Regions from separate parts of the Homo sapiens genome. Here region 1 is linked to region 2. A link means that fine-mapping ties the variant in region 2 to the expression of a gene that starts in the linked region. Tissue or cell type: nasal epithelium. Region 2 holds a variant in brackets; the other region holds the start of a gene. All regions are shown on one strand. Distances are from middle to middle.

Region 1 (4,393 bases), 77 kb before region 2:
AATGAATGCTGAACTCAAGAACATCACAGCATAGAGAAACCTCTGTTTGAGCTCTACCTCCCCGTGATGGCCCCTGTCCCCACCTACCTCTCCCAAGGCTGCCCCTGATGGCGAAAACTCCCTTCACCACAAGAGCTAACAAAGGTTCAGCAGGAACTGCCTCACTCTCTCAGTTTCTCCTTCCTCTTCAGAGGGAGTGCCTCTGTTTTAATTCCAGCTCAGGTTCTTTCTCACACATATATACAAGGAGTTAACATTCTCCGTCTCCTCTGGTTCCAGTTTTTGCAGTGGGCTTAGGAAAATGCTTTTCCTCCCTTCATTTCCTTTATCACCCTCCCTCCTCCACCAAACATTCTGATCATGGCCATAAGCCCAAGCAGTGGCAGTGATAGACTTGTATAAAGAAAAGGAAAACCCATTGAACCTGAAAAGTAAACAGCACAAAGGTCAAATAACAACGAAAGGCTTGTCAAAGGCTTGTACATGGTTGCCAAGAGTGTGGTACTGGCAAGCAATGCTTTGAGACTGTACAGGTAGAGAGAAGTTATTAGGGCCGCAGCATCCATGGGAGGGCTTTGGGGAGAGAGAGAAGAGCTAGAGCTGACCCTGAAGGGACGGTGATTCCCAAACTGTGGTAATCTGGGTGGCCTGAGTAAAGTCATCTGTGCTCAGAGGCAGGGACCAGGTGGGTCTCTCTGGGATGGGGGTTTGTGTTGGAGGCAATGAGCAAAAGTCTGAAAGTATAATTTGAGCCCTTAATGGTAAAGTCCAGAAGTTTGACATCAAAGATGGCAGTGATTTGATCAATGTCGCTTACTGAGGTTTAAGGAAAGATACAAATTATCTGTAAAAATGTAAACTCAAAACAAATTTGTCAAAAGTTCAGTATAGTAGTGTATCACCACTGTGCTAAAGGTTTTCTTATTTCAAATAACTCAATAAAAATGAGGCAAACCATTCTGTAACTAGCTAAACTGAAGTCCATACCAACTATTTAATGCTTCAAAATAACCTTAAACTTCTACTCACTTATCATTCTACAATTTAAGTAAGTAATGTTTCACATTTTCAACAGAATGTATGCTTATAGACACATAAACACGAAAGATAGGGACAGATCATCTTGGTGACTTGCACGTATGTGGCAAGTGTCCTAGGGAAAGGAGCAGGCATGGGGTGAAGGTGGGAACAAGAGTGCCTGGCGTGACCATGTGAGGCAGGGCATTTGGCTATGTGTTGCTGTGTGCTCTGTCTCACCCCCGTGACCCAAGAATATTAGTGTGGCAGGGTGTGGACAGCAAGGATTAATGGGTCATTGGCAAACATGGGCGAGGCTGGTGTTTTACTCCCTTCTGAACAGTCTTCAGTACTATCAAGCTTTTGCTTGTTTTTTGGTGGTGTGGATGGCAGGTTTCATTTGCAGGGCCAAATATATATAAACTAATAACTGCCAGGAATGATTTGTGATATGGAATGAAATCTTTCAGTACTTTTTAAATGATAGAGGCATTAAAAGAATGCAGGAGAAATAAATTCCTGTGGATGAAGCAGACTTTTTTTGGGGGGACAGAATTACTCAGTTCTAACATTAACTATGTTTTATTAGTTCTTTGAAAAACCTGCAAATGATCTGGTCAGTTCTATAATTTTAAAATCTAAAATCGTTTACTATCCCAATACCCTAAAAACAATACTTACTGTGGGGTCTTTTATTAAGACTTTAAAGATACTTTTCATAAGCACAATTTTATTTCCTGGTGACTGGAAAAATAGGAAAATATTTAGAGCCTTTTGCTTAATTGATAAGGTAACACTGAAACAAAGGTTAAAAACAAAGCTGAATGGAGAAAATAATGCCTATAGAAATATTCATGTCAAACAGGTAAGAATATTCTTGGCAACTGCAGCCCCTGCCTCCACAATTGCAAAATTGCAGCTCCCTGTCCCTTCTGTCTGTCTCAGCTCCGCCCACGTCCAGTGGCTGAGCTACAACGAACTGCCCCACCTCTTTTAAAGCGTCTTTCTCTGAACTGTGCAAGGAAGAGAGCATCGCCTGACAGTGGTGAGGTGAAAATTAAAACTACACAGGGGTCAATGCTCTGCTGAAAAGTATGAAAAGAAGTTCGTTTGTAGCGTTTCCCGCAGTCTCCTCGCCTCTCCTCGGCCTCTGGCGCCTTCCTCCCCTGTCTGCTCGCACCCTATATTTCTACCCCAGCTCATCAGTGTATTTGTTTGTTAATTCATTCATTCTTTCATTCATATTCTCCGCTGTTGTTAATTTTCCCATTGACAGTAGGCGCAAGGGGCAACGCCACTCGCCCTGTCCCTCTAGCGTGGCCTCTGTTTGGGGGTCTGGGGTGGAGGTCGTCCCGGCCCGGGTGGTTCCGGACGCCGGCTTTCCGCACCTGGCTCGGTGACGGCCTCGGCGCCCCGCCCTCTTGGCCACGGTCCGCAGCCATCGCCCCAGTGAGGGCGCGGTCTGTGGGCGGGGCCGGCTCCAGGAGCCGCGCTGTGATTGGCCGTGTCCAGGCAACCGCGGAGACGCCGTCGTCAACAGACCGCGCTCGGAACCAGAGGCGCGGGTCACAGAGACCTAGAACAGCTGGAATCCTTCGCCCCCGGCGCGCAGCCTTCGCCCGCCGGAATCGCTGCCTTATCCACCAGCGGGATGCTTACCTCGCCCGCCCTCTCGGGTCAGGCGGGCCCGGGAGGATGGGAGGGTGGCTGCTGAGCGGGAGCCGCCACGTCTTCCACCCGACATATTGCCTAGTAAGTGTGGGAGCGATGCCTGCCGCACGAGAGCCGCCGAGGTGCCGAGCCTTCCAACAAGCGGCCTAGGGAGGTCTTGGAAAAATGCCATTTCTGAGGTGGACTACACGCCCACTTTACAGATGCGGAAACAGTACCAGGAAAGCTCGGTGACTTGCCCTGGCCCACTTAATCGTCCGCTACCCAGGGCAAGCCGAGGGTCAAGGTACCGACCCCTCCTACTCTAGAGCTCTTTCCATCACACCTCACCCGAGCCCACGCCCAGCCGCTCTGGTGGAAAAGCGGTTTTCCTAGTTTCTGTCTATGCCATAGGCCAGCAGTTCAAGGTGATGAAGTCCACCTGGGCTTTGGAGGGAACATGGGAACCAGAAGAAACACATTTCCTGAACATAAGGATAAATATGTATAGTCTAAAAGCCAAAGCAACACTTACATGGTTTCACAATCATATCAGTTTCTTTCACCCTCCTTATATGGAAATAAGACTTAATAAGTAGATTTAGTTTCCATTTGGTAGAGCTTTTCCTTTCATTTTCTTGGAAGCTCTGTTTCTTCTCAGCAATGACCTTCCTCCTAAAGCACTCCAATTATTCTCAGATATTGCCTTCTTGACTATTTTCTCAACGGTGGGACAGTCCGTTTCAATATCCTTGTCTCTGTCCACATTATTTGAGCCAATGATCACAGCCAAGCCTTGTCCCTTAAGGGCAGAAAAAATGGGAGGAGGTTTAAGGGTTTCTGGGGAAGAGTTGCATCAGGATCCATCATGAAGCTTCGTCCCAGTTTCCTTTCTTCCTGGAAAAATCATCGTTCACAAATTCACCTAAATCACAAGATATATATCCACCTAGCCCAGACTTCTTTTTCAGAAACTAACAGGGGTATAGGAAGTTTGGGGTGTTGATAATAAAGTAGCTAGAAGCTTATTGAATGTCTAAACTGGATTAATGGACTCTCAACCCTGCACTGTCCCTGAACCTCCGAGCACATAGGACCTTTTCTCTGAGGGCATGCTGACTTCACAAGACTGTCGCCCAGGGCAGCCCAGGAGCATCTGCTTCCAGTAGACGGGGCCCTTGTACAGTTGCCAGCTTAACCTTTCTATTTTCCCCAAAGCTTTGCCTGCCCACATTTTCAGCTCAGACTTTCACTTCCTTGTTTTTCCTTTTACACTTCCTCCTTCTTCTAAGGAAATACTTTCCTATCCAAACTCTATGTATGGTTCTTGGGATGGCCTCTAAAACTTAGGGCAATGCTCAACTCCGGTATGTTGTTGTTTCCGACTTCTGGGTTACTTGGTTCCCCAATTTATAATAACCTCAGCTGAGGAAACTCTGAATAATAGTAAATAAATAAATAAATAGCATAGTTTTATCAGAAAATAATATATCCCCCTTTATTTTTTTTTGAGACAGGGTCTCGCTCTGTCCCCCAGGCTGGAGTGCAGTGGTGCAATCTTGGCTTACTGCAACCTCTGCCCCCTGGGTTCAAGCAATTCTCCTGCCTCAGCCTCCCTAGTAGCTGGGATTACACGTGTGTGTTACCATGCCCGGCTAATTTTTGTATTTTTAGTAGAGACGAGGTTTCACCATGTTGGCCAGGCTGGTCTCAAGCTCCTGACCTC
Region 2 (4,393 bases):
CTTGGGAAGTGGGAGGAAGGGGCTTTTCGGTGTATTTGGTGACAGAACATGTCTCAGCCAAGGGGCAGGGACTGCCAGTTGCCACCCAGATACACTCCCTTGCTCCTTAGGCTGTAGCCCCAATTTTACTTAGGGTTGCAGTATACCCAGCCTAAAAGCATTTCTCAATTTCCCTTGCTGCCAGATGGGGCTGCGTGATGCCATTCTGGCAGTGGCTAAGTAATGAAGCTGTGGGGTGGGCCTTCTGGGCAGGGTGCCTCGAAGGAACTGACTCCATCAGGGGGTGTGCTTCTGTGTCCTCCCAGTGGCCCTGCTGCTCAGGACGTGCTGCTTGGCACTAAGGACACCATGTTGAATCATAAGGTGGCTGAAGACAGAAGGATGTGCTGAGATGACCGAGGAGCAGGATAGAAAGAGTGTGGATCTGTTTTCAAGATTTTAAAAATTAACCTTTTTATTTTGAGATAATTATAGATTCACAGGCAGTGGTAATAAGTGATACAGGGAGATGCCCATCTATTATTTATCTATTTATCTATTTATTTATTTATTTCAAGATGGAGTCTCATTCTGTCTCCTGGGCTGGAGTCTCACTCTGTCTCCTGAGCTGGAGTGCAGTGGTGTGATCTCAGCTCACTGCAGCCTCCGCCTCCCCAGTTCAAGTGATTCTCCTGTCTCAGCCTCCTGAGTAGCTGGGATTACAGGCACGGGCCACCACGCTCAGCTAATTTTTGTATTTTTAGTAGAGACGGGGTTTCACCATGTTGGCCAGCCTGGTCTCGAACTCCTGACCTCCATTGATCTGCCCGCCTCGGCCTCCCAAAGTTTTACAGGATTACAGGCGTATGCCACCGTGCCCAGCCTGCCCATCTATTCTTTACCCACTTTCCCCCATAGTAACATAGTACCACAGCATGGCTGGGACCTTGACTTTGATACAGTTAAGGTAGCAGGACAGGACCTCTCACCGTGCACCTCTGCATGGCACACCACAGAGTGCACATCCATTTCCCCCCGGCCCACCCGCCCCAACATCTAGAAACTGCTGATCTGTTAGAGCCTGGATCTCGATGAAGGCAGAGCCTGTATCCCAGCCCTAAACCACTCTCCTTGGCATGAACTTCGATTGATTGAAAGACATAAATATCTAAATTAATGGTGCCATGTCATTTTAAAAAAGTGTTATAGAGTCAAACCTATCCCTTAACTGAGACAGTAGAGGTCCAGAAAAGGAGACCAGGCAATCACTATTACATTGGGGGAAATATTATACCTGTGGTTTCAAAGAAGCAGGACACCTTGGCTACATGGCGAAAGGATTAGGGGTTGTTGCTTTCACAACATTCCATTGCATTTCCCCTCCTCGCAGCGGTGACCCTGGCTTGTGTGAGGTGCTTTTGAATGTTTTTATTCCTATCTTATTTGGGTATTATCAATAATTCATTTTAAATATTCTGGCTGCTACAAACATTTACTTTAGAAGGATTTATTGTATCCTAAAGTCTGCATTTATGATTTCTTGAGATGATATCACTTCCTTGGGGATTTCAGTTCTGATTCTCAGAAAGAGATTAGTGGGGGAAGCGGAATTTGATGTTCAGAAATGTTCCAGAAACTTGGCTGCAATGCGTCAGGCCTGCTAGGCGGGCTGCCACATTCCTGGGCCTGTCTCAGCCGGCCGCTCATGCTGTGTCTCCCCTTTTAGGAGCTGGAGTCAGAGAGGACGTGTTTCTCGTTTGGCAAGAGATGGAGGAAGCCTGCAGCACGCTGGCCCAGATCCAGAGGCTGGTGGCCGAGCCTCCCAAGCCCGACGTGGCCACTGTGGACTGC[G/T]GTTGGTGCTATTTCTGGTCACTGGTGTAAAAGATTCATAAATGTTACTAGCTGGGGACCAGGGGCTGCTTCCATGTTCCTGACCAGAGAAGCTCCAGAGCCCAGCTGCGAGGGGCTGCTGAGGAGAGCAGCCAGAGCTGTGTGGGGTGAGGGGTGGGGAGGGGGCTGAACACACATGCATGGACATGTGTGTGTGTGTGTGCCCACGTGCTCACATGTGTGCATATGTGGAGATTGTCAGTACCCAGAGCTGGACAGTAAAGTGGTAAAAACAGATGCTTGGGCCGGGCGCGGTGGCTCACACCTGTTACCCCAGCACTTTGGGAGGCCGAGGCGGGTGGATCACGAGGTCAGGAGATCGAGACCATCCTGGCCAACATGGTGAAACCCCGTCTCTACTGAAAATACAAAAATTAGCTGGGTGTGGTGGCCCGTGCCTGTAATCCCAGCTACTCAGGAGGCTGAGGCAGGAGAATGGCTTGAACCCGGGAGGCAGAGATCACAGTGAGCCGAGATCGTGCCACTGCACTCCAGCCTAGCAATGGAGAGAGACTCTGTCTCAAAAACAACAACAACAACAACAATAACAATAACAAAACAGATTCTTGACAAACTCTTGTATACTAAGGAAAACCAGACCTCTGTATAAAACTGGGCTCAATTCTGAGTACAACATGGACAAGTGGGGATTCATAGCCAAGGTCAGGGGGACGCCAGTGGATGGAAAATTATTAAGAGGAGATGTTAAGGGCAGGGGGGCTTCTCGCTAAACCAACTTGACAGGATTCTTTCAGGAGAGAGGCCAGTGTGATCAGATGTCGCCTGGGGGACGGTGGGAACGAGGATGTGGATCAGATAGCAAAGCGATCAGATACTGAGGGTGGGGCATTCTGGCTACACTGACTTAGGCTTTTTGCTAAAATCAGGCGATGCAGAGATGAGCATAGAAGTGCAAAGGTTGAGGCCTCGCTGAGAAGAGCATTCAGAGGAGCCTGGCTGAAGGCTGGGCAAGGGGAGACTGTCGAGTTGCCGGTGCTCTTCCAGGGAGGAGGAGCAGGAGAGCTCAGTGATCGGCTCGGCCAGCCTTGACCCTTGCCTGCAGACAAAATCCCATCCACGCTGTCTGTGTCTGTGCAGGCAACCATCTGACTTGCTCTCAGATGCCTACAGGAAGGCCTAAATCAGTTTTCTTTGAGCAGGGTCCAGGACCTTGCGGCAGAAGGGGACACAGGCTGGGGAAAAAGTGTGGAATGTTTACTTGGAAGGAGTAGTGTGAATGGGGGTTTGAGTTATTAATATTAAAAAGAAATTATTAAAATCCAGTTGCATTTCTGATATTCACCTAACACTCTTCTATCTAATTTGGAATAGCCACTTGAAACTTTGGAGTTTGGAAGACTGATTTGCATTCCCTAAATGGTAGTAACAGCAATATGACCACTGAATGGGCACATACTATGTGTCAGGTGCTGCCCTGAGGGGTAGGCCTATATTTAGCTCATTTAAGCCTCATAACTCTATGAGGGAGTTTCTTATTATCTCCAACTGACAGGTGAGGAAACTGAATTACAGAGCGATTAAGTCATTGGCCATGGTCACATAGCTAGCAAACGTAGTCTGATTTTGAACCCAAAATGCAGAACAGCAACTTTCCTGCCTAAACTTTTACAAAAAAATATTAGCAGTGAGGCTGTACTCATCTTGATGTTGGTTTCCATGATTTAATTAGCACCTACCCTATTCTGAGTAAATGAAAGCACTTCTTGGTGTTTGATGGGTTCCAGCCCCACAACTGCACCATACAAACAACCTCACTGCATTTTTACTAGTGAAAGACATTGAGACTACACAAAATATTTTCTCCCTTTTTTTCTTATAAACCAAAGCATTTTTCATAACAATGGACATGAGTTTGGGGGTGAGAAAGACCTGGTTATAAATCCCAGCTCCATCACTAGACCCACCTGAGTTTGTCTCTTTTAGCCTTATTCTTCTGCACAACGACTATCATAATCTTGATGCTGAGGAACCACTGTACAGACAAAATACAATGATGCATGCTCCACACCAAGCAGGGACTTGATGTCAGCGCATTCTTTGCCCTTTCACAATTAGGGGAGTTGGTACACGGATTCTCCTGCATGGCCTTTCCTCTGTAAGGTGCTGGTTTCCTTTGGGGCACACCTGGTGGACGCACATACCTTACACATCAGGCACTGTTTAAGGCTCCTTATGAGCGTTAGCTCATTTCATATTTGCTACAATCTTAAGAGACAGGTGCTACTGCTAGTATTATCTCCGTTTTGGCTTCAGTAACTTGCCCAAGGCTACACAGCTAATGAGATGATGAAGCCTAGATTCAAAACCTAGTCCACCAGTAAAAATACTGATATCTGCTTCCCACCCACCGGACATGTAATCAGGATGTCTGATTAAATCATCCTGATTTAATCCCTATGGGATGACATTGGGACTTTTGAAAGCTCCCCGGGTGATCCTAGTGTGCAGCTAATTTTGGAACCACTGCCAGGCTGCAGTGCCTCCTGGGTTACAGAGGTGCAGA

Evidence for each region.
Region 1: it holds the start of VWA3B, and the variant in region 2 is fine-mapped to the expression of VWA3B in nasal epithelium (TOPMed, PIP above 0.99).

What each region holds. Positions count from the first base shown.
Region 1 is chr2:98,084,595-98,088,987 of GRCh38, forward strand. It overlaps VWA3B (von Willebrand factor A domain containing 3B), which reads left to right and starts at 2,573. Exons shown (of 28, transcript NM_144992.5): 1 at 2,573-2,769. RefSeq lists enhancers at 2,301-2,801, 2,698-2,767, 2,802-3,302.
Region 2 is chr2:98,161,146-98,165,538 of GRCh38, forward strand. It overlaps VWA3B (von Willebrand factor A domain containing 3B), which reads left to right. Exons shown (of 28, transcript NM_144992.5): 8 at 1,706-1,831. Among named protein-coding and RNA genes, the nearest start is that of VWA3B, 76 kb to the left of the region's middle. RefSeq lists an enhancer at 1,835-2,381. The variant G/T (reference allele first, on the strand shown) is at 1,831.